Regions from separate parts of the Homo sapiens genome. Here region 1 is linked to region 2. Evidence: fine-mapped expression QTL. A gene starts in region 2. The other region holds a variant in brackets. All regions are shown on one strand. Distances are between the middles of the regions. Region 1 has its middle 54 kb from the start of GPR63. Region 2 holds the start of GPR63 (G protein-coupled receptor 63).

Region 1 (12,958 bases), 55 kb after region 2:
ATATAGACCTAGATCTTTTATTTCTAACCCCACCTTTCTCCTTTAATTACACTTTCTCTCCTACTAGATGCTAAGCTCCCTGAGGGCAGGGCACTAGGCTTGTTCCTGGTTTCCCCAGCATCTACCATGGTGGCTCACAGAGAGCAGTACCCTCTCAAAGTCTGGAAGTGGACCTTTTGATAATAGAATCTTGCTGGTAAAAACTAGGATGGACTTTTCCAAGCCAAATAAGTTCTAGGTAGCAAGAACTGAGATCAACGCCCATGTCTTCAGTCTCTGATGACTCACCTACTATTCTAACCTGCTTCCTGGACTTAAGAGAGAAAGTAATCTTGGGGTTTTCTTATACCATCCAGGCAAGTTTGGAGATTAATGTGTAGAGCGAATAAGATTGCTAATTTGTACTTGCTAAATCTGGCAGCCCTGAATACTGAACATATGTATATATTTTTTTGGCCCTATGATTTCCAATTCACGTCATGCAGGAGGTCCTCCATTTCACTTATTTATGAGGTGGCCCTGTGACTGCAACTTATGGTCTCGACTAAATATGCTGGGGCTCAGGCTCTTCACAGGGTAGAGGGAGAACATGACTTATGATGCAGCTGAAGAGTGCACATGCAGATGGACTAATAATGACTGCATGTAAGGTGCGTTTCTTTGACTGTTTTGGGTAATCGGAATGATTGATGATGGGGATATGGACAAGTCATATTCCATGACCACCTCCGTCATGGAGATTTTGGTTGGGAAAAGTTTTCTGTTGATGGAATTAGATATACATATGTCGAACGCCATTTTGAACACTTGCAACAGATCTTCAGAGTTTAAATCACTTTCACCACAGTTTTGGCAGGACTGTGACATTTTTTTTCAGTTGTTCTTCCTGATGGGAGCTATAAATAGCTTTGAGGAAGGATATAATTATCCCAAAGTAGAAGCTAAAGATGAAAAATCTGCTTGAGATTTTTTAAGGAACATTTAATAGTTATTATTATGTAACATTTATTAAGTATGCTCACTGTGCTCATTGTCTTTGCCAGGAAGAAACTGGGAATAAAAAGTCAATCCAAGATGTGACATGTATAAATAGACTAAAAGGTACATACATTAATGTGGTGCCAAAACAAACAGTTGGCTTAATAAAAAAAGAAAATTTAGAAGAACAAAAAGGCAGCCAAATCAGTCTACTATTGTATAGAAGTGAGGAAAACTTAAAATTTAGTAACAAATCTTTGAAACACTGACCATTTAAAACAAAGATGGATAGTCTGTAAAAACAGGGAACATTGGCCGGGTGCGGTGGCTCATGCCTATAGTCCTAGCACTTTGGGAGGCTGAGGAGGGCAGATTGCCTGAGCTCAGGAGTTCCAGACCAGCCTGGGCAACGTGGCAAAACTCCATCTCTACTAAAATACAAAAAATTAGCTGGGCGTGGCAGCGTGTGCCTGTAGTCCCAGCTACTTGGGAGGCTGAAACAGGAGAATTGCTTAAACCCGGGAGATAGAGGTTGCAGTGAGCCAAGACTACACCGCTGCACTCCAGCATGGGCGACAGAGCAAGACTCCATCTCCAAAAAAAACCAAAAAAAGGCAGGAAACATTATGGTATGTGCATGGGGTGGGGGTGGGTAATGCTGTGTTTTTGGCAACTAGCTCAGACTTTTACATATAAAAGGTGTTTACTTTGCTTAATGAGTAAGTTCTAAAATATGTAAATACTAAACAAAGGTTCAATGTTGGTTGAAGCAAGGTAAGTGTTATAAATAATGATTTCGGTTGTCAGTTCCTGGTTAAGACTTTTATTGCTGTTTAAAGCCCATAGAGAGTCCACAACCAAATAATTACATTAATGGAAGTCACTTATTTGATGCCTGCTAGGTGATGCAAATACTTTATGTAATCGCCAGTCCTTATAATGACTCTGGGAGGTAGATATTATTTATAAATCTTTAAAGCTTCAAGTGGTTAATTGGATTTTAAGAGGCTACGGGACTCATAAAGTGGAGGTACTGTTACCAAAACACCAGGGGTTCCCTGCTGCTCACTACGGAAAAAGCCATCACTGAGACGAGTATCACCAGGGAAGAAGGCTTCTAGTGTTGCAGCCAAGAATGGGAGATCAATCTCAAATCTGTCTCCGCAAGTGACTAAAATTAGGGGTTTATATAGCGGGGAAGAAATGGAACTCCACATGGGAAAACAGGAATTGGAGAAGGGGGTAAGGAAGAGGAATTGGTTAACAGGCAGCAAGTGGTTGGTTAGGCAATCATGACAGGTATTGGGTCTGACGTCTCATTGTCCAGATGCAGTGACTGATTGGAAACTTTCAGTTTCTTGACACTGTCTGGGAGGCCTGATGGTTGGTTTCCTGAGAAAGAAACTCAGATAAGACAATGCAAGTTTCTCAAGTTTTAAGACTGCGAGGGTCAATTTCTAGGTTTTTTCAAAAGAAACCATAAACATCAGTTATATGGGACAGTTGGGCTGGTTTCAGAACAAGAATTTAAACCTGCGTCTGTATGGACACTGAAACTCATGTGTTTTTTGTTTCCTTCACTTTATTCTTTCCTCATTCATGAAGGATTTTCCTTTAGAATCTGATTGTCCCAATCAACCTAGCTTGGGCCTCCTGACTCATCCTGTTGCCTCTGGCCTGCTCAGCTTGTCCTCAACTCCTCCATGGTCGGCTGGCTCTAAGCTTGGTGATTTGTCTACATTATTCATCACTTCTTCATCTCAGTATATACCAGGTTCAGCATTACTACTCAGCGCTGGTAATTTGCAGCAGTGCCACCGCACAATTTCTGACATAGGTAAAACATGCATATCCACTTTGTGACCTAAAGTAATGTGTTTCTCATTTGCAAGCAAGAGACACAAGAAATGAATTCAAGATCCCTGTTAAGCATTATTGGCCCTTATATCTTCAGAGAAGGTCTGAGTGTAGGGTGAAATCTAGGCAGGCCAGGCAGGCATGCAGCTTCTGGAGGCCAGTGCAACAGAAGACTTTTGAGATCTAAATAATACAAACAATGGTAGTTTCTTTGTGCTAGGTTATTCCTGGGAAAATTTTCAGACATGATGACCATCAGAAAGGCAGAAAAGATTTAGGTAGTGAGGAGGGACTCAGGCTGGTGAAGTTCCTACTCAGGTCTTTATTAACTGAATGCCAAATACCTCCTTTCTCAGGAATGCTAGCTTGACCATGGGATCTCAGGAGATCTGGAGGCCCGTGGCTCTGGTCATGAAGTCCTGATTCTCAGAAGCAGAGCCTCATGGAAATTTGACCCTTTCTGTAGCCTGGGTGCTTATCTGGGTGCTTTCAATATAATTCCCAAAGTGGCCGACATAGTACTATGGACGTTAGAAGGGTTAGGAGTAACACTAGAGTAAAAACAGCAGTTCCTTCCTCTTCTGGAAAGGAAACCATTACCCACAAGGGTATACTCAGCAATCATGCTTATGACAAAAATTAAAATATGGAACATGGGATATGGTGAGGGCTAGGAAGTGAACCATGAAAATACTGTCACTGTGGGACAGGTTATAATATAGCTTTTCAAATACTGTCTTGACCTAGTTTGGGGGCCCTGGTTAGAGGCTGGCCAGTTGCCCTTCTTTAGCTGATTAAGTCCATATCCAGAAACACCTTCCCTATCAAGCTTTTATTCCCTAAGTCAGCCATATACCCCACCTACCCTAATTCCCCCAGTCAGACACTAGGAACAGCCCTTAGGCTCCAGAGCTTGCTGGATTAGTCACACTAACCAATCCCAAGTCTGCATACCCTGCCTCACCCCTGAGCAATGCACAATAGAAGCTTCAGCCCACAGTTCCCCTTCTCTTTCTGCCCTGTGACAGATCCCAGTATAGCCTCCTATGGCGTAACATGTACTCTTTCTTGCGAACTGTTAGTAGTATAAACTGTCTTTTCAATGGCACTCATCTCCTGATGTGTTGGCCTTACCACACAGAAATAATAATAAAATCTATTACAACACAAGTGCACATCAAGGGTAGATGAGAGAATTTGGGAAATGACCTAAGAATTTATAAACCTTAAGAAATGGACTTTACAAGAATGATGCCAGTGTGTAAAGGCCTCAGGAAGTTAATGGGGTGCAGAGCTGGCTTAAAGGTAGGGGCTGAAGTTATCTGGTTTTACATAGTTCTTTTATGCCTTCAGATCTCTCTCTATTGTCATTTGAAGAAAATATACCTTTGTTGCCCTCACACCTCCTCTGCCCTTGTTCTATATACCATGTGCTCTGATTGTCTTCATGCTGTGCAACTTGACTCGCCCACTGGCATCCTGGCTAAAGTCTTACTACTTAATCTTTTGTGAATGACTTCCTCCATTGACTGACTTTTGGGGCTTTTTTTCTAGCAGTTAGTTGTGCTTCCTTCTTAAAGGAGTTAAAATTCTCTCTCTAGCCATGCTTCCTTAGGCTGCCTGGGTAATCATTGGTGCAAACATTATTCTGGGTGTATTACCCTGACCCCACAAATGTGACATGAAAATCAATCTGTGTATTCATTAAAGTAGTGATAGCTTTTGTGTCAATAAACCCCTCAAATCAATAGCTTAACATAAGAATAGTTGATTTCATTTTCATGTAACAATCCAATTCAAATGTCCCCAGTTGGCTCCAAGCAATCACCCAGGAATCCTTCTATGGGAAGCTCTAGTATCTTCAGCATGCAGATCCTAATGTATTCCAATATACAGCTAGTATTCCAATATACAGCTGTATTCCAATATAAAGCCAGTGATAAAAGAGATACCAGGCCTGGACACCTGGAAGATTTTTATGGCCAAACTTGAATATGGCCTCCATCACTTTCACAAATATTTCTGTGGATAGAAGTTGGTTATGTGGTTGCACCTTCCTGCAGTGGAGGCAGAAATATGGTCTAGCTTGTGTGCCCCAGATGAAAAGGAAATGAGTTTTGGTGAAAACAAAGTCATTTCTGCACAGTAGAGCCAACAGTGACCACTTTGTGGCCACAGCATCCCAAAGAGAGAAAACCTTCACCTGAGACTGTGGGTTTCCCTCACTGTTTGATAGTAGCCCATGAGAGTTAGCCCGTGTACAGCTCCAGCTTCCATCTTCAGACCCATGCCAAAAAGATTTCCTCTGACACAGTCTAAGTCCTCAACTTCCTTATGGCATTGATGAGCTCTGTATCCCAGGCTGTGAAATTTATGGATGAGGCAGAATGACTGACAGTCTTGATATCCTGGCTGAGAAGAGAGACAAACAGATGAACAATCCCACACTCATGACCAAACCAACTTTCCCCAGATCAGCATGAGGATTTCTCACAGTATTTCAGGCCATGTTAGGCCATCCCAGCCTGGCACTAAGTGCCTTCACACCCATCTGCCGCCTTTATCAGGGCATCAGTTAATGTGTTGCTGTATCTTGAAGTTCTGTTTGCTGGCACAGGCTTTATTCAGGGTCAATGAGAACCAGAGTGTTTGACACCAGGGAGGCTTTCCAGACACGTCTATGATTTATTACTCTAGGCCACAAAGTCAGCTGTCTGTGTATAGGAGGTCAACTGACCAGCCAGCCATATCTTCTCATTGGCAGAGGGCTGGACATAAACTATGTGAGTGGAGGAAGAATGCTGCTGCCATATGATAGCAGAATCGGTGGGTACATTTACAATGACATCCTAGGGAAACCAGCTGCTTCTGTAAATATTCCCCTCTGTCTATTCAAGGTGCCCTTTATCTGATGATTTGTAAATGCTGTAGTCTGCTCTAGTAAGTGCAACTGCTAGTTTTCTTCTTCTTTTTACTAGCTTATTATTTTCTTCTTGTCTTCTTCCCTCTTGTAACTGTTCCAATAAGGCAATGAACACTGCTTGTAGAATCCAGGCAGGCTGGACACAGTCCCATAGAATAGTAGTTGGAGAAAATCCTGTCCTCCGGGTCCTGGTGCATAGGTCCAGCTACTTTGTTTAAGTCTGAGTAAACACCACTGATTACCACTGATGGGTGCACACTAGGATAGGGCTTATGGCTCAGAAATGTTTGGGTGGAGGATCACATGGAACTAGTACTGGAGGTCAACTGTGATAAATAGGCATCCATATAAAAGTGCACCTTAAACAATCCTATGTGTCTCATGGGCCCTCACATACTCGTAAATGAGATTTTCCCATCTTCTGAGCTCATTTCTTAATTCTTCCATTTATGATTTCATTTTACTCCCAGGATCTGATGCTGGGCTCTAAATGTGTTGTATTTTCTTGACTATAATTCAGATTATGCCTCTGGAATTGTGGCTGCAAGTTTCCTGGGAAGATATTTGACCTGGCCCAAGATTTCCTCCAGATTCCTGTATACCACCCAGACCTTAATCTTCAGTTCTCCTTCTGAGGCTCCCTGGGATTCAGGAACTAGGATTAGTTAGAAAAGACCATTTGCATCAATGGGACAAACTGTCATTGAAA[A/G]TAAATGTCCTAAGTTGTCTATATCTCAGGTTCTTTTACTGCAAAAGTACTATATTCCAAATATTTGTTTGTGCGTGTTTAATAAATAGTTGGATAATCCCTATTCTGCTTTCTGGAAGGTTCTCTCTTGTCCATTGCTTTCCATGGCTACACCTCAGATGGGTATTGGAGAGAGTGAGCCTTCCAAGAGTTATCCCTAAGGAGTCTGCTTTGGGTTAGTAAAATTTCAGTGTTCTGGGAGTTGATTTAGAGCTCAAGCAAAGCAACTTCTTTATCAATTAATGAGGGCTCCTACCCACAGCCTCCCTTTCTATTCCCTGAGTTCCAAGGGCTAGTAACTAAAGGTCAAACATTATGTCAAGACATAGTTCTTGACTTGTGAAACTGGGCATGGGAATTTCAATCTCTTAAGCAGCTGGCCTTGCCTTTGTCTCAGGCATTGGCTCACATACTTGCCCCTCAACTGAATGGCTTCTACCTAGAAATAAAATCAAGCGACAGCTGCGGTAGGAGTCACCAGTAATTCTCCTCTTGCCCCTAGGCTCCATCCTAGCTTCTTCTTTGCAATTAGGTGAGTTGAATTTTGTCAGTCCTGGGGTGCATAACTGCAGATAGTTGAGGGGGAACACATCCCAATTTCCTCCCGGGGATGACTTCTTCCCAGCTTTCTGGCATGTTTGTTAAATGACAGCATAGTGTGCCATTTTCTACCCCAGGTTTCATTTCATTGGATTTTTAGCCATCTCAGATTGTGGACCCTCAACAGAAATGGTCTCTACTAGCATATTTGTAATTTTCCTTCTTTTCTCTTTTCAGATGGGCCAATTTCAATCTAAATCCAATATTTTCTTGGTAGGACCTTACTGAAGGCCATAACAAATAACACTCTGAGCTCCCATTTGTTTTCCTATCAAGTCTTGTATTGAGGAAGCTTCAGGAAGCACATGGTCTCAGTCCCAAGATACAAGTAAATATTTCACTACTCCTTAGCAAGGATTGCCAGCTTCCCTGCCCAAGACAGAAAGTCCTTGTTATTTTCACCACGACTTTGCCAATTCCATCTTCTTAATTCATCTCTTATACTACCCCACTTCCAGTCCTTTTTGTTTTTAACATGCTGGAAGGGCTCTTTCCGTTGTAAGTAACAGAAAATTAACCAATCTGTTTGGGCCAGACAACATGCTCCACCCTGGATCCCAGAAGTGTGTGGGCTAAAAGCGAGAGGAGGAGTGGGTGACTTCTTAGAGAGAGGTTGGGGTGCAATACGGTTATCTGGGTTACTAGCAGCGAGTGTGTACAGGTCTGCAGCAACCTCAATTCTTGCCTTCTCAGAAGAAAGAATTGAACTAAGGGGCATAAAGCAGAAAAAGAGATGAAGGCAAGTTTCAGAGCAGGAGTGGAAGTTTATTTAAAAGCTTTATATTAGGAAAGAAAGGAAAGTACACTTGGAAGAGACCCAAGTGGGCAGTTTGAAGGTCATGTGCCCCGTTTAACCTTGATCCTAGGACTTTATATGCTGGCCCCCTCCTGTCATCTTGCGTCTCTTTTCCCATGATTCTTCCCTTAGGGTGGGCTGCCTGCATGCGCAATGCCTTCCTTGCACTTGGGAGGTGAGCACGTGCAGTGTGTTTACTAGCGTTGTGCATACAGTCACCTGAGGCTTTCTTCCCTTTTCTAGTGGAATGCCCCTGGAAGGTCATACTTAGCCATTTTGTCTCTTAAAACTCACGCTCAAGCTCACTCACCCAGTTCCTGAGATTTTATTGGAAGTTGCTGATTACCATTTTCAAGTGTTTTTATTCTGTTGAGAAATTGCTTCTCCCTAGCACCTGTGACCAACTATCATTTTAATGTGACAGCTACCAAGCCATCTCCCTGGCACTGGCTGCAACCAATGATCATTTTTAGAGAGGTAGTGTGACAACTGCCAGACCATCACCTAATGGTTGCCTCACATTCCTGGTGGATGGGGAGCCCTCTCCTTTCCTGCTCATGCCTGACTACCTACTGTAACACAATGACTAAAATGATGGTCTATAAATATTGGGTCATCAAAAAACAACACATTTCCATTACATTTGGTTTCCAAACAAAGCCAATGAATGCTGTTGGAAACAATAATATTGCACAATCCTAAAAATTGGTGCCACTTCAAGTTCATGTTCTCCAACTTTATTTGGACCTCAGCACTACTTGACAAACTTTTTACACTGCCCTGGTCAGCTCTTTTTATAGGCTCCAAAACTGATTATTTTTAACCCACATCAGTTCTTCCTAACTCTCGTTCAGCTTCAGCAGACAACCTTGCCTCTGGGTGCACCATGAAGGCAAGCAACATTTTCTGATATCCTACTCCTTATATAGTCACTGGGATATGTAGTCCCTCAATAAATATTGAATCAATTGCTGAAATATGGAAATACAACTATTGGACAATGTTAATAATGTGAGTTACTGTTATAAAGTGTGCTATGGGGAAGTAGATTAGTGTGGAGGAAGGAACATAAGCTTTGAATTGCAGCAGATGTGGGGTCAAGTTTTGACTTGGCCAGTTGTTTACTCTGAGCCTTTGTTTTCTCATCTGTGAAAGAAAGAAAAGACAACATATCCTTCATTGTTCTTCCGAGATTTGGAAATAAAATGAAGTTTGTAAGGCACCTGGCAGACAGATCTCATTCTGTTAATGGTAGTTAGAATGATAAATAATGAGGATGGACTTGTATCCCATATGATAGCTTATTTGTTCATCTCGTCAGCAGTTGCTGCAATGGAACTAATAAATTTTCCTCCCAATTCTTTCTCATTTTCCAATAATGTGATAATAAAATAAATATTTGCTTTAAAGGAAAAATGACAAGATGTGGATATCTTACCCTATTATTATATGACAGGTCTTATTTCCTTTTTTCACCATGATAATTTGAGTTCACTGTGTCTAAGCCCTCTCTGTATTGAGAAGCTGGGAATTGATATAGTGATGTGAAAAATAAAGGAAAATTATAGTTTTGCCTTGATTACTGAGATAAGTCCCTCCAAAAAGGGCTGATTTGGCTTTTCTTTTTAAAAACGTCTCCGTTCTTATTATAAAATGAAAACATTTATATTATATAGAAAATCTGAAAGATGTTGCAAAGCACAAAATATTAAAAAAAAATCCACTGACAACTAACCTATAAATATCCTCAACTAACCTATGAATAACCTATAAATATTTCTCTTTTTTTGTGAATGTGTATCATTGCTATATAAAACAGAAATCAAATTCTTTCTTCTTATTATTATTAAAGAGACAGGGTCTCACTCTGTTGCCCAGGCTGGAGTGAAATGGTGCAATCATAGCTCACTGTAGCCTCAAACTCTGGGCTTAAGCCATCTTCCCACCTCAGCTTCCCAAGTAAGTAGCTATGACTACAGCCGCACACCCCCATGCCCAGCTATATATATTTTATTTTTTTGTAGAAACAGGTTCTTGCTATGTTGTCCATACTGGTCTCAAACTCCTGGCCTCAAGTGATTCTCCTGCCTCAGCCTCCCAAAGTGCTGAGATTACAGGTGTAAGCCACTGTGCTTGGCTGAGAAGTCAGATTCTAATACTATTTTAATTTGCTTTTCACTCAGTAACAATTCCATCCAGTATTGCTTTACAATATTACATAAAATGCTGTGATGAACATCCCTGAACATATTTACTCACATTTGTGGGTTTTGTTGTTTCGTTTGTTTGTTTGAGATAAATTCCAAGGGGTTGAATTGTGAGGTTCAGAAGGCAGTCAGTCATTTTTGAAATTTTGGACTTATTGTCAAATTGCTGTTTAGAAAAGTTGTATGAATTTATATTCATTGTAGCAAATGCCTATGTCCTAATTGAAGACTGAGCTCCAGAATTAGTTTTTAATTTTTATTTTGGTAAATGAAAAATGGAACGTATTTCAAAATGCTTTTCTTTTATTGTTAGTAGACCAAGCAATATTACATGTTTATTTCCTTTTTCTATTTCTTGTGAACTACTTTTCCCATTTTTCTGTCGGGGCATTTGTCTTTTCCTTGATAATTTATGGGAGTTTTCCTAACATACAGCAGATGTAACCTTAGCATTGGTTTCTCTAGGCTCTGGCCATCGGCATTGCTTTCAGTTCTTTAAACATATCACACCCACTGGCCTTCCTGTCTTCATACGTTATTAGTAAAAAATTCATCTTTAAGCAGTTTGACTTAACCAGGTAGCAACTAGCATGTCAGACAATTGCCATGAGCTGAAAAGAATTCTGATGTGCCTTGACCCTTCCCTTAACAGAGATACAAATAATCACAAGTTTCTAGTGAAGTTTTATGGGTCAGTGCAGAGTGAGAAGAATTCAGTGAAATTCTGGTACAAATGAAGTAAACTTTATTTTATTTATTTAATTTAAATCATAAATTTGGATTTAGTAGAGTTTCTCTCTCTTCCTCAGGTCTTAAACATTCCTCAGGATGGTCTTCTGTAAGCTTCCGCAACCCCACTTGTCAATGGTAAATCCTCGCTATCTGTTCTGAAAGCATAGCACTGTATATACTTGCCTTTTCATAACACTCTTCACAATTAGAATTTCTTTTTATTGCTTGCCTTCTGCAACAGTGTAAACACTGTTAGGGTAAAGACATGCCACCATTGTTCACTGTTGTTTGACCATAGCCACAATTTCTTCTTTCTCTTTGTTAATGGAAATTTGTTCAGATATTCATCCCTGTGGTCCTCAGAAGAGGCCATCCTCACACCCCACTCTAACAGTAGTTGATTGATCTAAATTTTCTTTTTTTTTTTGCCAATGAGTTTATCATGATTAGGTGCATGATACAATTTGAGCTGATGAAGCACAAGGAAAGATTTCCTGAAAGCATTTCCTTCATCTCCTGGGCTACCTTCCAAAAAGGAGGTCACTCATATTCTGGACATGGAGACTATATCTCAGAACTCTGCCTCTTTTTCCTTTGGACTGAGGATGAAATCAATGCACAGGTGTCACTCCTGAAACCCACATCACGGCTGACTTCTGGTTATGTGTGCCAATAAATGTCCTTGTTTAAGCCAGTTTGAATCAGGTTTTCTATTACTTTGGCAAAGTGCACCATATCTAATATATATCTAATCAGTCCATACACTGAACAAATACTTACTGAATTGAATCAAAAATTATTTCTCATGTATGATGTATGTGTCTTCCTTAGTTTACATTTTATCCCTTACGTTTTTGTTTTGCTTAATTATAAGATAATAAAATTTATTTTCAAAAGTCAAAGCAATACAGAAATATGACAGAGAACTTTAATCTCTACTTTCTTCTTTCTAATTATGCTTTCCTGAGGTAGCTAATGCTAACCTTTGGCTGGATGTACCTGTGTATTTTCCTCTGGGCTCATAGAGATTTACAAACTTCTATTGTGTTTAGTTTTGTTTACTTGTTTATTCATTTTACAAAAATCGGGTCATGGTGTATATATTGTTGCACAATATCTTTGTTTTGTCTTCAAATTAATAGCTCATGGCTGTTTTTATAGGTTGGTCTACCTGGATACAACTCATTCTCCTTAATAACTATATACCATAGCTGATTTCTTTGCATTTCTGCTCTGGTTAAATGTTTCTCACAGAGGTTTTTTTTTTTTTTTAATTGCAAATTTCTTTTTTTAAAATTTTTTTATTATACTTTAAGTTTTAGGGTACATGTGCACACCGTGCAGGTTTGTTACATATGTATACATGTGCCATGTTGATGTGCTGCACCCATTAACTCGTCATTTAACATTAGGCATATCTCCTAATGCTATCCCTCCCCTCTCCCCCCACCCCACAACAGGCCCTGGTGTGTGATGTTCCCCTTCCTGTGTCCATGTGTTCTCATTGTTCAATTCCCACCTATGAGTGAGAACATGCGGTGTTTGGTTTTTTGTCCTTGCGATAGTTTGCTGAGAATGATGGTTTGTCCTTGCGATAGTTTGCTGAGAATGATGGTTTCCAGCTTCATCCATGTCCCTTTTTTTTTGTTTGTTTGAGACGGAGTCTCGGTCTGTTGCCCAGGCTGGAGTGCAGTGGCGCGATCTCGACTCACTGCAAGCTCCGCCTCCCAGGTTCATGCCATTCTCCTGCCTCAGCCTCCCGAGTAGCTGGGACTACAGGCGCCCGCCACCGCGCCCAGCTAATTTTTTGTATTTGTAGTAGAGACGGGGTTTCACTGTATTAGCCAGGATGGTCTCGATCTCCTGACCTCGTGATCCACCAGCCTCAGCCTCCCAAAATGCTGGGATTACAGGCGTGAGCCACCGCGCCCGGCCCAGAGTTTTATTCAATACTTTTTAAAAATGTAAATTTGAAACTTTAACTGTTTCCCCTTTGACTGTTCACTTTATGTCTCCAAATTTGGGGCATAAGAAGAAAATAGTAGATAGCCTGCACAACATGGCTTAACCTCATCTCTACCAAAAAACAAAAATGAAAACAAACAAAAAAAAGCATG
Region 2 (11,604 bases):
ATGTGTAATTCTTTTTCTCAAATCAGGAAGGCTTCTTTACAGGATCTGTATAGTACCTGCAGAACAGTGAGAAGTCATCTGAAACTTTAAGAAAGGCATGCATGGTTACAGCAAGGCAGAGACCAGCAGAAAGGACTGCCTATAAGAGAGGACTAAAGGTATTAGCCACATGGAGAGAGAAAGAAAAGAGAATAAAATTATGAAACATAAAAAATTAATTTGGGAATCCCTGTTTTGGTAAGTCAGAGATAATAACAATGTCCACTAGAGGAAGAGAAAAATAAAGAACTATTTCTAACTTATATGAGAAAGGGTTGAGGGAGAGAGAAGGGATGATTAGCTGAACAACCACTACCAGAATTTTTCCCAAGAAGGAATGGAAGTTCCCTATGTCATGGTGGAATTAGAAGTATAATTCGTGATTTCCAAATGCCGAAGCGTTTACTTAACTACCTTGTCTTTCTAGTTAAGCCCCTGCAGAACTGGGCTGGCAGTGTGTGAGCCATGAAGACTCCTTTTGCTTCTGTAGATAAAAGCAGAGTTTCAAAACCCTTAGTCATATATAAAAACTTTCTTGAATTTTGCATATCCTCAAAATATCTGCACTTTTATTCACTTAACATTTTTATTAAATTGACTTATTTGAATTAATTGCTTTTTAGTAGAGACAGGGTCTCACTATGTTGCCCAGCCTGGTCTCAAACTCCTGGTCTCAAGTGATCTCCTGCCTTGGCCTCCTAAAATGTTGGGATTATAGGCATGAGCCAATGCTCCCAGCCAAAAACGAACTCATTAAAAAAAAAATCTAGCGTCATCCTAAGAAGTAATATCCGTGAAATGAGATTGATATGTTATTTTTCTAATTCTTGATACATTAAATAGACATATTAAAAGTTACCCTACCCTGGCCGGGCAGCAGTGGCTCACACCTGTAATCCCAGCACTTTGGGAGGCCGAGGCGGGCGGATCACAAGGTCAGGAGATTGAGACCATTCTGGCTAACGTGGTGAAACCCTGTCTCTACTAAAAATACAAATAATTAGCCAGGCGTGGGAATACAGGGGTGCCTGTAGTCCCAGCTAGTCGGGAGGCTGAGGCAGGAGAGTGGTTGAACCCGGGAGGTGGAGCTTGCAGTGAGCCGAGATAGCGCCACTGCACTCTAGCCTGGGCAACAGAGCCAGACTTCGTCTCAAAAAAAAAAAAAAAAAAAAAAGTTACCCTACCCTAAAAGTAATCATGTGTCAATAATGGTCCAGATACCAGTGTTGGAAAAACAACAGGCTAAGGCATGGACTAAAAGCAGGCTGAATGGCTGCTCTACGTCTTCCTTCATTGGTCTTGGCCTACTGAATCTTATTTACCGCTGCAGTGTTTTCTTGGAGTGTGTGTGCACGCACACACTTGTGTGTCTTCTTTGAGGGGTAGAAAATAGTGCGATGTGGTAGGATGAGGGAAAGGTTTCTGGCCAAGAGACCATGTCTCTACTAAGGCTTACAAAAAGAACAGAAGCATCAACCATTTAGTCCCTATGGACTTAACCACAGACTTCACCATGGACATCCCAAGATGGAGGCAGCCAGAGCTAGTCACTGGACACCAGCCACCCGAGAAAGATGGGAGCCCAGAGATACTTGGAGAGTAAGCAACTGCAGCGCAGAGAGGCAGCTGGCAGCCAGAGCTAGTCACTGGACACCAGCCACCCTAGAAAGATGGAAGCCCAGAGATACTTGGAGAGTAAGCAACTGCAGCGCAGAGAAGCCGCTGTGTAGGACGGAGTGTGCTCTCCCTACAGAATCCCTCACTGGTCACTCTTTTGGTCCAATCCTATGCCACTGAGGGTTCCCTTAGCAAAGAGACTGGCATTAGAGCCTTGTCCTCAGTGTACAGTGAGTTGAAAGATGCCTTGAATGTAACCAGTAAATATTGGTCAAAAATATTATAATAAAAGATTTCTGAAACTTAAAGCTTGTTTCTCAGGATACTTGACATACAACCAGGCCTAGATCCACATATGTTTATCACTGTTCTATTAGCAAAACCAAGAGAAAGATTTTAATAAAAGGTTAGCTCAACATCAAATAGAAATTTTTAAAAATTTCATTAGGGAGTTTTCCAAATATACTCAATAATAATTAGTACAAGGTAATAAATCTCCATCCACCAGCTTCAAAAATTATTAGTCATTTTTTCACCTATTCCTCCTTCCATTATTTTTGCAGGATTATGAAATTCTTCAATATGCACCCCAATGACATATTTGTTTTATATATAACTGTCATGCCATTATCACATCTAACAAAATTAACAATAATTCATCTATAGTATCAAATTACTTAATCCATAATCTGATTTTCCTGATTATTTCAAGGATTATCTTCACAGGTTGTTTGTACCAAACAGGACATACAGTCCACACGTTGCAGTTAATTATGATCCTTAAATCTCTTTTACTCTTTTGTAGTCTGACCCCTGTTTTTTCATGTCATTGATTCCATATGGAAATCAGGTCACTTTGCTTATTGAATGTTTGACATTCTGGATTTGATTGATTGCTTTCTTCAGATGATTTCTAACTTGATCCTCTGTCCCCTGTATTTCCTGTTAGGTCTAGAGGCTTGATTAGATTCAGATTCCGTTGCTTAGGCCATAAAACCTCTCAGTGGTTCTGGGTACTTCTGATTTTGTCATATCATGAAGTACATGGTATCTGCTTATCAGACTTGTAGTTTATAGTGTTTTTCCCCCTTTATCTTCGTTGTTATGTCTCTTTGGGGGAATTTAAATTTATGCTACCTTTATTATCTTTCTCCAGCCAAAGTTCAGAAAAGTCTGGATTTACATAGACAAAACAATCAGTCAAAATACAGTGGTCTAGATACTGAATTTCTTGGACAAGTTGTATTTGAAAATGTTTACTCTTTCATACACAAAGGGATTGATTAAATAGGGGAAAAAGTTTGTAAGTTATGAACACTTAAGAGGGATTACTGAATGTAAAATTACAAAAAGCACATCACTAATTACTATGTTTAGAAACTACACTATTAAAAGTTAGGATGAAAATAGCTGGAATTTAATGAGTCATCTGCTAATTATTCAGCTTATGGATTTCTAATGCCACTTACTTCTAGCCTTTCTGCTTTTCCTTAGGGAGTTTTTGGTGGTATTTTTACTGCCTTTTAACACCTCCAGAAACGACTCTATGCTTACAACTGACCATAAAATGTACATGTGGAGAGACACATGAAATATTATGACTCAGGATTCATGCTGTGTTACTGAGGTAAACCATGAGCAGTTTACACCACAGTTGAAGATTTTTCAGGGGCAAATGCAGAGTAGAAAGTAGTTAGAAATCTGCTGACTACCTGGCATGCTATCTATGGGAAGAAACGTAACTTATCAAAGTCAATGTACTCACTGAGGAAAGAGACAGGCTCCTCAGGTGCTAGATGTGTTCTATGGCTCCAACTCAGGGTTCTCAGCCATGATTGCACATTGGAATCACTTGGGCAGCTTTTAATCTCACTGATGTCCAGAGTCAACCCTGAAATTGAATCTGGGTCTCTGAGGATGGGCCCCAGGCAACGGTATTTTAAAAAAAACCTCTCAGGTGATTCTAATGTGCAGTCAGGGTTGAAAATATCCAATCTAGTCAATAAGAGGTGGCATTTACAAGTCTTACTGTGTGCACAGGACTGTGCAGAAAATCTCTTGCACATAAAGAAATTGATGCTTGGAGAGATGTTATTTGCTCAATGTCTTGCCTCAAAACAGTTTCACACCTAGTCTATTTAGCTTCAGAACCAGAGGCTTTTGAGCTTACTGTGAACATTAACCAAAGTAAGACATTGAATTCATGTCATAACTCAGAACACGCATGATAATGAAACACAAGTTTAACAAATAATACTTATTAAGTATGATGCATGCTGATATTTTAATTAAAATAATACTAGTCAAAACTTAGTAAAATGACTTCATGACTTGGAGTTTGAAAAACTTTTCTAAACCATGACAGTACAGGTTTCATTTCTGTTCCTGCAAGTGGCAAGATCTTTTTCCCATCAATGCCTTCTCATTTTGTTTGCTTTCTTGCTTGGAAAATCTTTCCTTTTTCCTCTGCATTTAAAAAAGACCATCTAATTGCTTCCTCGCTAGAAAGTGTTTCCAAGACTATTCCAGTCCATAGTGTCTCATTTTCTGATGCCTATTTTTAATACACGGAGATCATCCCACACTTTTTACACTAAATTATATGATATATTGTGATGTTCTGTAATTGTCTTATATCTTAGATAGTTATGTCTCTTTGAGGACAGTGACTACATTCTATGCTTTTGCTTCTATATCCTTCGAAATGTCTAGCAAAAGCACATGTGTGTTAGGGACATCACAGATACTAAAAAACAGCTATGTACCCTACACAAGTCAACCTTTGAGCTTTCATTTCTTTAGCTCTGAAATGAAAGGGATGTTTTAGGTTATTCTAAAGTCTCTTCCAGTTTATTAGTCTAAATTTCTATGATATATGAGGATTTCTATAAAATGCACAAATGAAGAAAAAAATACAAAACTTTTTTTTTTAGCAACTACTGTAAAAGAAAAGTTCTTGTGTGAGACAAAAAAAGCCTGAAATTTTTTGTCACTTTTTGGTAGGCAAAATAAACACCTTTTCAGAGAGAAAGATAACATCTTTCTCTCTGAAAAGATAAAGTTACTGAAGTTTAAAAACAAAGCTGGGCTCTTTGGCACTTGGATACTGAAATGTGATTATTCGTAGGCCACTTTTTTTTCCCCCAAGTTGAATATATATATATATATCAGGGAATTTCCATGAGCTCTTATCAAATTAAATTGATTGCATAACTAAAAAGGCCTAACAATGAATGTGGGCTTGAGGTACATGGAGGCAGGTTTATAATTTAGGGAAAAATAATTGAATACAATCATGGTTTATATATTGTTTGTTTGCAGGTGGTTTGTGAAATGTCACAAATGTCACTCAGGATCTTCTCAGTGGCTCTGAGGCCAAAGGATGTGGCTGGTTGGCTCAATTACTAGCACCTCCATGACCCATCAGCATTCTCATTCTTCTGATCCTGAGACTGTTGGTAAAGGAGCAGAGAGGTGGTCAGTCCCCTTGGTGACAGTGGTGGTGATGTGTGTATACTGGGGAATGGGGATTGTAGTGGGCATTTATAGTCTTTATCTACTCAACATTCTTTTGCCTTCTTTATTAACAACACTTTAATTTTCCTTTGGGAAACCTCTTTCTTTCTACTCGGTCCCTGTGGTTTGGGTATATATGAAGGGTACATACAATTATTTCCCTTGACCTTTTTGTAGATAAAGGCAAATAACCCCAGCCTGGCAGTGTGCATTCCATCCCATAGTTACAATGGTTAGTTCAGAGATGAACGCAGGATCCACGTGGGTCTGGTGAGACATTCTTCAGCTTGCTTTCTTTCTGATGCGACTAATTGCTAAGGAGGTTGGATGTTAAGACTGGAGATGTAGGTCTTCCCTCTGTTTAGAGAAATAAAACCAGTGCAGTGAAAGCACAATGAAGACAGGGAGAGAAATTGAGTCCTGATGCTCTTTGAGTATCTGGAGTAAAAAGGATTTCTAAGAACGTGTGTGTGTGTGTGTGTGTGTGTGTGTGTGTGCGCGCGCCAGTTCTACTTATGGGATTTATAAACATATGAACCAATAAATTCCAATGCCCTTTGCTGCAGGTTTTGCTAACTCAGTTTGAGTTGTGTGCTGGCCACATCCAACTATCCTGACTTCACTTTTGCTCGCTGATAATCTCCTTTCCCATCTTAAAAGTTTGGTCCAGGCAAGACCATGTCTCCTGCTTTTATTGAGCCCAGGGCTTATTTCGTCTCCATCTGGTTACAGAAGTTTCTTCAACCTTTTGTATAGTCTCCTCTTGCCTTATTCTTCTACAAGTTCAACACAAGTGCTTCTTTCACAGCTGTAGGTGGCAGGAGGCAAAGAACTGAGATGTTCTGGTTCAGTCTCAGGGTAGTGATATGCAAGTGCCTTTGTGTGAATGAGGAAATGCCACTCTCTCCGAGCTTGGTGCTAGGACTGGTGCTCTGGAACCCAGGCTAGATCTTAACTCCAAATTGCCTGCCCACCTCCTCAGACAGAGGACACAGTGCAGAGTACAAACTGCACAACACTATACTGAAGTCCCATAGGTCCAAGAAGCAAGGGTTGGAACTATGAGGTAGAAAAACAAGTCCGTGGACAGTAGCAACCCTCTGCTGCTCATGCCCACTGCTGCTGTGGTCTCTTCCTAGGGTGACGATAGCTGCTGATGCTGGGAGCCTCCTGGGCATCACCACCTGAGGCTGTGGCCTCAGTAATGATCACATATGTTGATAATAGCTGAAAATATCACTTGTCACTGAAAGCAGCATTTTCCACTGTCTCAAGATGATACTTTTTCTGGGGGGTCTTCCTGAGTTGTTTGGCATCTTTACAGCCCATGTGTTGATGAAAGTGAATCGTTTTAGAAATCCAGTGGGAGGCCAGCTGGGGATTGGCCATTGGAAGAGAACAGAGCACCGGGTAAAGGAGGATACCTGGCAATTCTCCCATGCCACACATCAGGGACACCTTCAAGCATTGGTCTAGGGGCCCCAGCTGGCTTTTAGTTATTTCAGTCTTCTGGACGCCTGCGTGAGACCCTCATCATTGTGTTGGAAATGAGGAAGAATAACCAAAGAAGAAACGCGAGTAGCCTCGGGGAACGCAAATCCACTGGGCAGTAGCCACTGGAGGTGCACTCTGGGGGCCCGTGGGAGCGGGAAACCAGGACCCTAAAAGGACTGCCAGGGATTAGGGGCGGGGCGACCGTCTGGGAGCGAGGCGCGGGGTGCAGGGCGCAGGCCAACGACGAGGGTTGCCCCAGTGCCGGGTGGGCGCACTTGCGGTACCCTCGATGCCTTTGCCCAGGCGGAGGAACGATGCGACCTGAGCATAGAGGGGTTCAGGGCAGGGAGCGGTCGAAAGGGGCCGGCGATCCGCCCTGGGGCAGCTCGGGCGTGGCCTCCAGGGATCTCTCCGTCTCTACTTGCCTCCTCCCTCTTTACTTGCCTCCTCCCTCTTTACTTGCCCCCTCCCTTTTTACTTGCCTCCTCCCTCTTTCTCTTCTCTCACTCACCTCCCGGTCTAAAACCGGGGCCGGCGCCTTTAAGAGGGAGCGTTGGTTACCCTGGGGGCGGGAACCCCTCGGCGGCTCGCGAGGCGGCGGCGCTCGTCCGCGATGCTCCTCACTTTCAGCTCCAGCTCCCGCCACCGCCGCCTGTATCGCCGCCGCCGCCACCACCTCCTCTTCGTTGTCCTCCTTCCTCCTCCGCCTGGCAGCGTTGTTCTCTGCAGCGGAGGAGAGAAGTGCTATGTCAGGAAAGTTCCGGGAGGGACTACATGGAGCCATGCTCCCTGGGCTCTTCCGCGGGCGCCCGCGCGCTGCCCTTCGCTTGAGGTGAGGTGAGGCTCGGGATCCCCGGCCCGCGATCCCCGGCCCGCGGGACAGGTAGCCGCTCGGGGCGGGGAGCGCTTGCATCCGCTGCGCTGGGCAGGGCGAGCAGTTTGGCGGAGTGCGGGGAGGAATGAGGCTGGAGAGACCGAAGTTGTGCCGGAGAAGCTTGGGTTTTCGGGAGGGTTTTTGCAGCTGGACTGGAGTTATTTCGGTCGGCGCCACACGGTGGGGACCCGGCGGGGACTCGGTTTCTCCCGGGCCGCCCGCCCCCCTCCCCTGCCCGTCTGAGCGGTTAGGCCTTCTAGGAAAACGGTCGGCTGCAGAGGGGCACCCCATGCCGGCTCCTTTCCTGCTGGGCTGTTCTGGTTGAGAATTCAGTGCTGGGAGTGAGAGGAAGGAGATGAGCTCCACTTGAACTTTTACACGGTGGTCTCGCTGCTTGAGGGCTGAAATTTACCTTGTTTGCGAGAGCGAAAGGTCCTTTCGCGCTCCAACAGTTAAGAGAGGTTCCCTCTTCCATGTGGTTCAGCTTGCGGCGCTGTGTGTTGCATCCTTGGCCGGTTTTCAACGTCGCCCTGATTTCAGTCTTTTCTCCTCTGCCCCTTTTCGGAAACATTCTTCTTTTTAATAATAAAATATGTTGTGGAGGCTCAGAGTGCTTAAAAAAAAAATCCAACAACATATCTTTATGAAAATTTCCCCCAGGGCTTGCCCAAATTTTCAAAGAGATCGTTTAGTCTTGGATGAGACTGAGTCTCGACACTTAGGGAATACAGGCATCCCTATAGTAGCATGCAGGTTTTTAGTGAGGTAGGATGAAGTTTAAACCATATGTTTTTAAAATAGGATTTCTCTTTGTTTATTGGGTGAGCTTGTTTTTCATTATGTCTTAGATTAAGAAGCCTTCAACCAGTTCTAGGAGTAGTGTTTCTAAGAATCATGGATAAAAACCTCATGTTTCTTGCATAAGCTGATACTGCTTCAGACATTCTAATCCATTGACGAGGTATGTAATACGTGTTTCATTTAATGAAACCTAACATAAAAGTACATTTATTGCAGACGTGGATAAGTTTTTTTTCCCACGTGTCCCGTGGGTAAAGGAAGCCCCATTTTCTCACACCCCTAGGTCTCTGCCACACCTCTATTCCTGTTTGCCTTATTCACTCACATTGCCAACTACAAATCTAAGGTGCTGATGAAAAGTCCCTATATTTTGTAAAATGTTGCATAGCCAAAATTTTAGTGACATAATTGATTACATCAATTATGAGCATTCAGATCATTTTGAACAATAAAAACAGAATGTGGGAGCTTATTTAAATAAAAGAGTGCCTTGACGTATTTCTGGTATATGCGTTACGTACAATTTTGTGTGTGAAAAGTATACTACCAAGGCAGACGGGATAGTGTAGGAAACATATTGTTTGTAATGGGAAGTTTTCGAAGAAAATCATCCCAGAATAACCAGTAATACTGTAAAATTTTGTTTGGGATATAGATTTTTATCTCTAAGTACAGTTTTGTCACTTTGCTGTAAAGTATACCAGTACCGAAACTCAAAAAAAGAACCCACCATCTCAAGCATTTTCTGAAAATTTCAGCAAGCTGAACATTCTTGGAGAAAAATTTGCTTAGGAAAAATAAACATAACTAAAACCCCTATGTAGTTACTGTTTTACCTTAAGTTTGCTGGACTGCAAGCAAGAAAGTAAGAATTTAGTGTTCCTAAGTGGATGTGACTTAGTTCCTAGAGTTACTTGAGCACCTTGAGATTTTGTTTATGGTTTATTTAATTTGGGTTGATTGTTTTGTGAATGAGTATTTTGGAAATGATACACACAGAGGTGGATTTGTATATGTATATATCCATATCACACATATATCTATATTTATGTATCCATACTATATATAGTATAACTATATATACCATATCTGTATATGCTATTGAGTATATAAAAAACATGAAAACCATTTAGGGACCTAATAATACATGTGCACCAGGAACAGTAGGTCTAAAATATCAGCTAAAAATAGTTATTGCTAGGGCTTGTCATCTTTTCAGCATTTTAGTCAATATCAGTTAAGTTAAAAAGCACTGGTTTTCAGTATGTTCTCGAACTCTTAACAAGGCTTGGATCAGGGAACCATATCCTAACCACATTTATCTATTCAAATGGATTGAATTACCCTGCCAATGGATAATTGAACCAGGCATTTCTTAAGCTTCAATAGGCAAATTCTAGGTAAAATTTAGTTTGTCAATATAGTGTTTTCTTCTTTTAATACTTCAAAAATAACCTTTAGGACATTCTTCATAGATCTGGGATTTAGAGAGTAGACCTCAAAGGCATGAGAGGCAAACCTTGGGGAAGTTCTGGTACTCCAATTTGTGAAATGATGTCTTAAGCACTTGATTTGAGAGAGGGACCCATTAATGCTTGGAAAAACAATATGTATAAATACAGTGCTCCAGTTACTACAAGCAAAACTATTTCATTCACCTTTGTTATGTTTGTTACCACATTTCACAGCTGAAGCTGCTATATTTCAGCTTATGTATGAAAATTAGAAATGAAATGAAGTAATCTGTTAGGCGGTTTTTTTTTCTTTAATTTGCTAGCTGTTTACCAGAAATGTGTTTATATTTGCTGCAAATCACCTTTACTTTGTTGCAGGTGGCACTTTTTCCTTTTTTTTTTTGCAACTATGACATATGTATATTTAGGATGAGTTCTTAGTGTTTCCTTGAAGACACATGAATGAGTTTCACAGAGTTTATGTTGCATTTCTTCAACTTTCAAAACACAACATTTGAGATGTTTGACTACCAGCCTGAGATCATAGATCTTAAGAGCTGATGTGATCCTGGTCAGTTATAGTTTCAATTTCCGGGGAATTTTCTGTTTAAGGTTAGATGTGCCCTCAATTTGAACTAGATGATCCACAAAATTGGTACTTTTGCAACCACAAAACATGAGAACATTCCAAATGATTTGAAGTGTGGGCAGCCCAACATGCTTTAGGATTTGGTTGGCTTGAGGCGGTATGCCATGCTTGTAAAAATGGTTTCTGAAGCTGACAGCAAGCTGTTTCAGGCTTTAAGTTTGACACATAGGATAAAATGCATTCTAGCCTCTGCACCAGTAAATATGGACAAGATTTGTATCCACTTCTGTTTGTATGACAGAAGATTCAGAAAACTCAAGCGTGAAACTCTAGCTTAATACACAGGAAAGCTCATTCATGTTCATTATAAACATAATGAAGAGTTAGAAAAGTTGGATTTTAACACAGCTCTCGGGTCTTGGGGAATAGATGGTATATTTGCAGGTATGGGGGCAATCTAGTGGTCACCTATTGAAATTAATAATAGGGTTATTATTATCAGCATTTCCTTTGAGTGATATGCTAAAGAATTACATCTTCCCAGATACAATTTAGAAAAACCCCCAGCCAGATACTGTACCAATCACCTGGCATATATATTAATTGATTCTTAGATCATTTTCAAATTCTTAACATCATTTTCAATTTAAACCTTTATGTGTTATTATAGTTATAAGCTTTACATACCTTTTAGGGTTTTTGAGCAAAGCTTCTTGGTTAACTTCTTTCTCTCAATTGACTTAGCTCAGTCTATGTTATTAAAGCATTTGAAAAATATTTTAGGCAAATTCTTTTCTGTGGAAACTTCTAAGGATCTTCCTTGGGGAGGCTGGTGCAGAAGGGACATGATTCTGTATTCTAGCTGTTACCTTTCTCCTAAAATGAGGCATCTTTACATCTTCCTACTTTATACAATATAAAACAAAACAAAAACAAATGCGTAGGTAACTTTAGAGAGAGAACATTTGTAGGCATTTAAAGAAGCCTGAAGTTTAGATCAGAGTAAGAGTTTCAACTGAAAATTATTTGAGAATCAATTAAATCTATCCCATGTATTTGGTATGGTATTTGGTTGAGGCTGTCTGGTGCAGGATTTTTTGTTCAAGTTGATCCTGGGAGGATGTGGATACAAAGGGAGTTGGGGTGTAGGCATAACATCCATTGTCTTCAAGAGGGAAAAATGTTCAGGTAAGTGGGCTTTTGTAGTAAGATCCATTCTT

The links. PIP is the estimated chance that this variant, and not a neighbour inherited with it, causes the effect. A credible set is the group of variants that fine-mapping cannot tell apart.
Region 1: its variant is the best candidate, but not a certain one, in a credible set for the expression of GPR63 in blood mononuclear cells (TOPMed, PIP 0.78).

What each region holds. Positions count from the first base shown.
Region 1 is chr6:96,777,412-96,790,369 of GRCh38, reverse strand. No RefSeq gene overlaps it. Among named protein-coding and RNA genes, the nearest start is that of GPR63, 54 kb to the left of the region's middle. The variant A/G (reference allele first, on the strand shown) is at 6,468.
Region 2 is chr6:96,833,162-96,844,765 of GRCh38, reverse strand. It overlaps GPR63 (G protein-coupled receptor 63), which reads left to right and starts at 7,289. Exons shown (of 2, transcript NM_030784.4): 1 at 7,289-7,498. RefSeq lists a silencer at 7,730-7,779.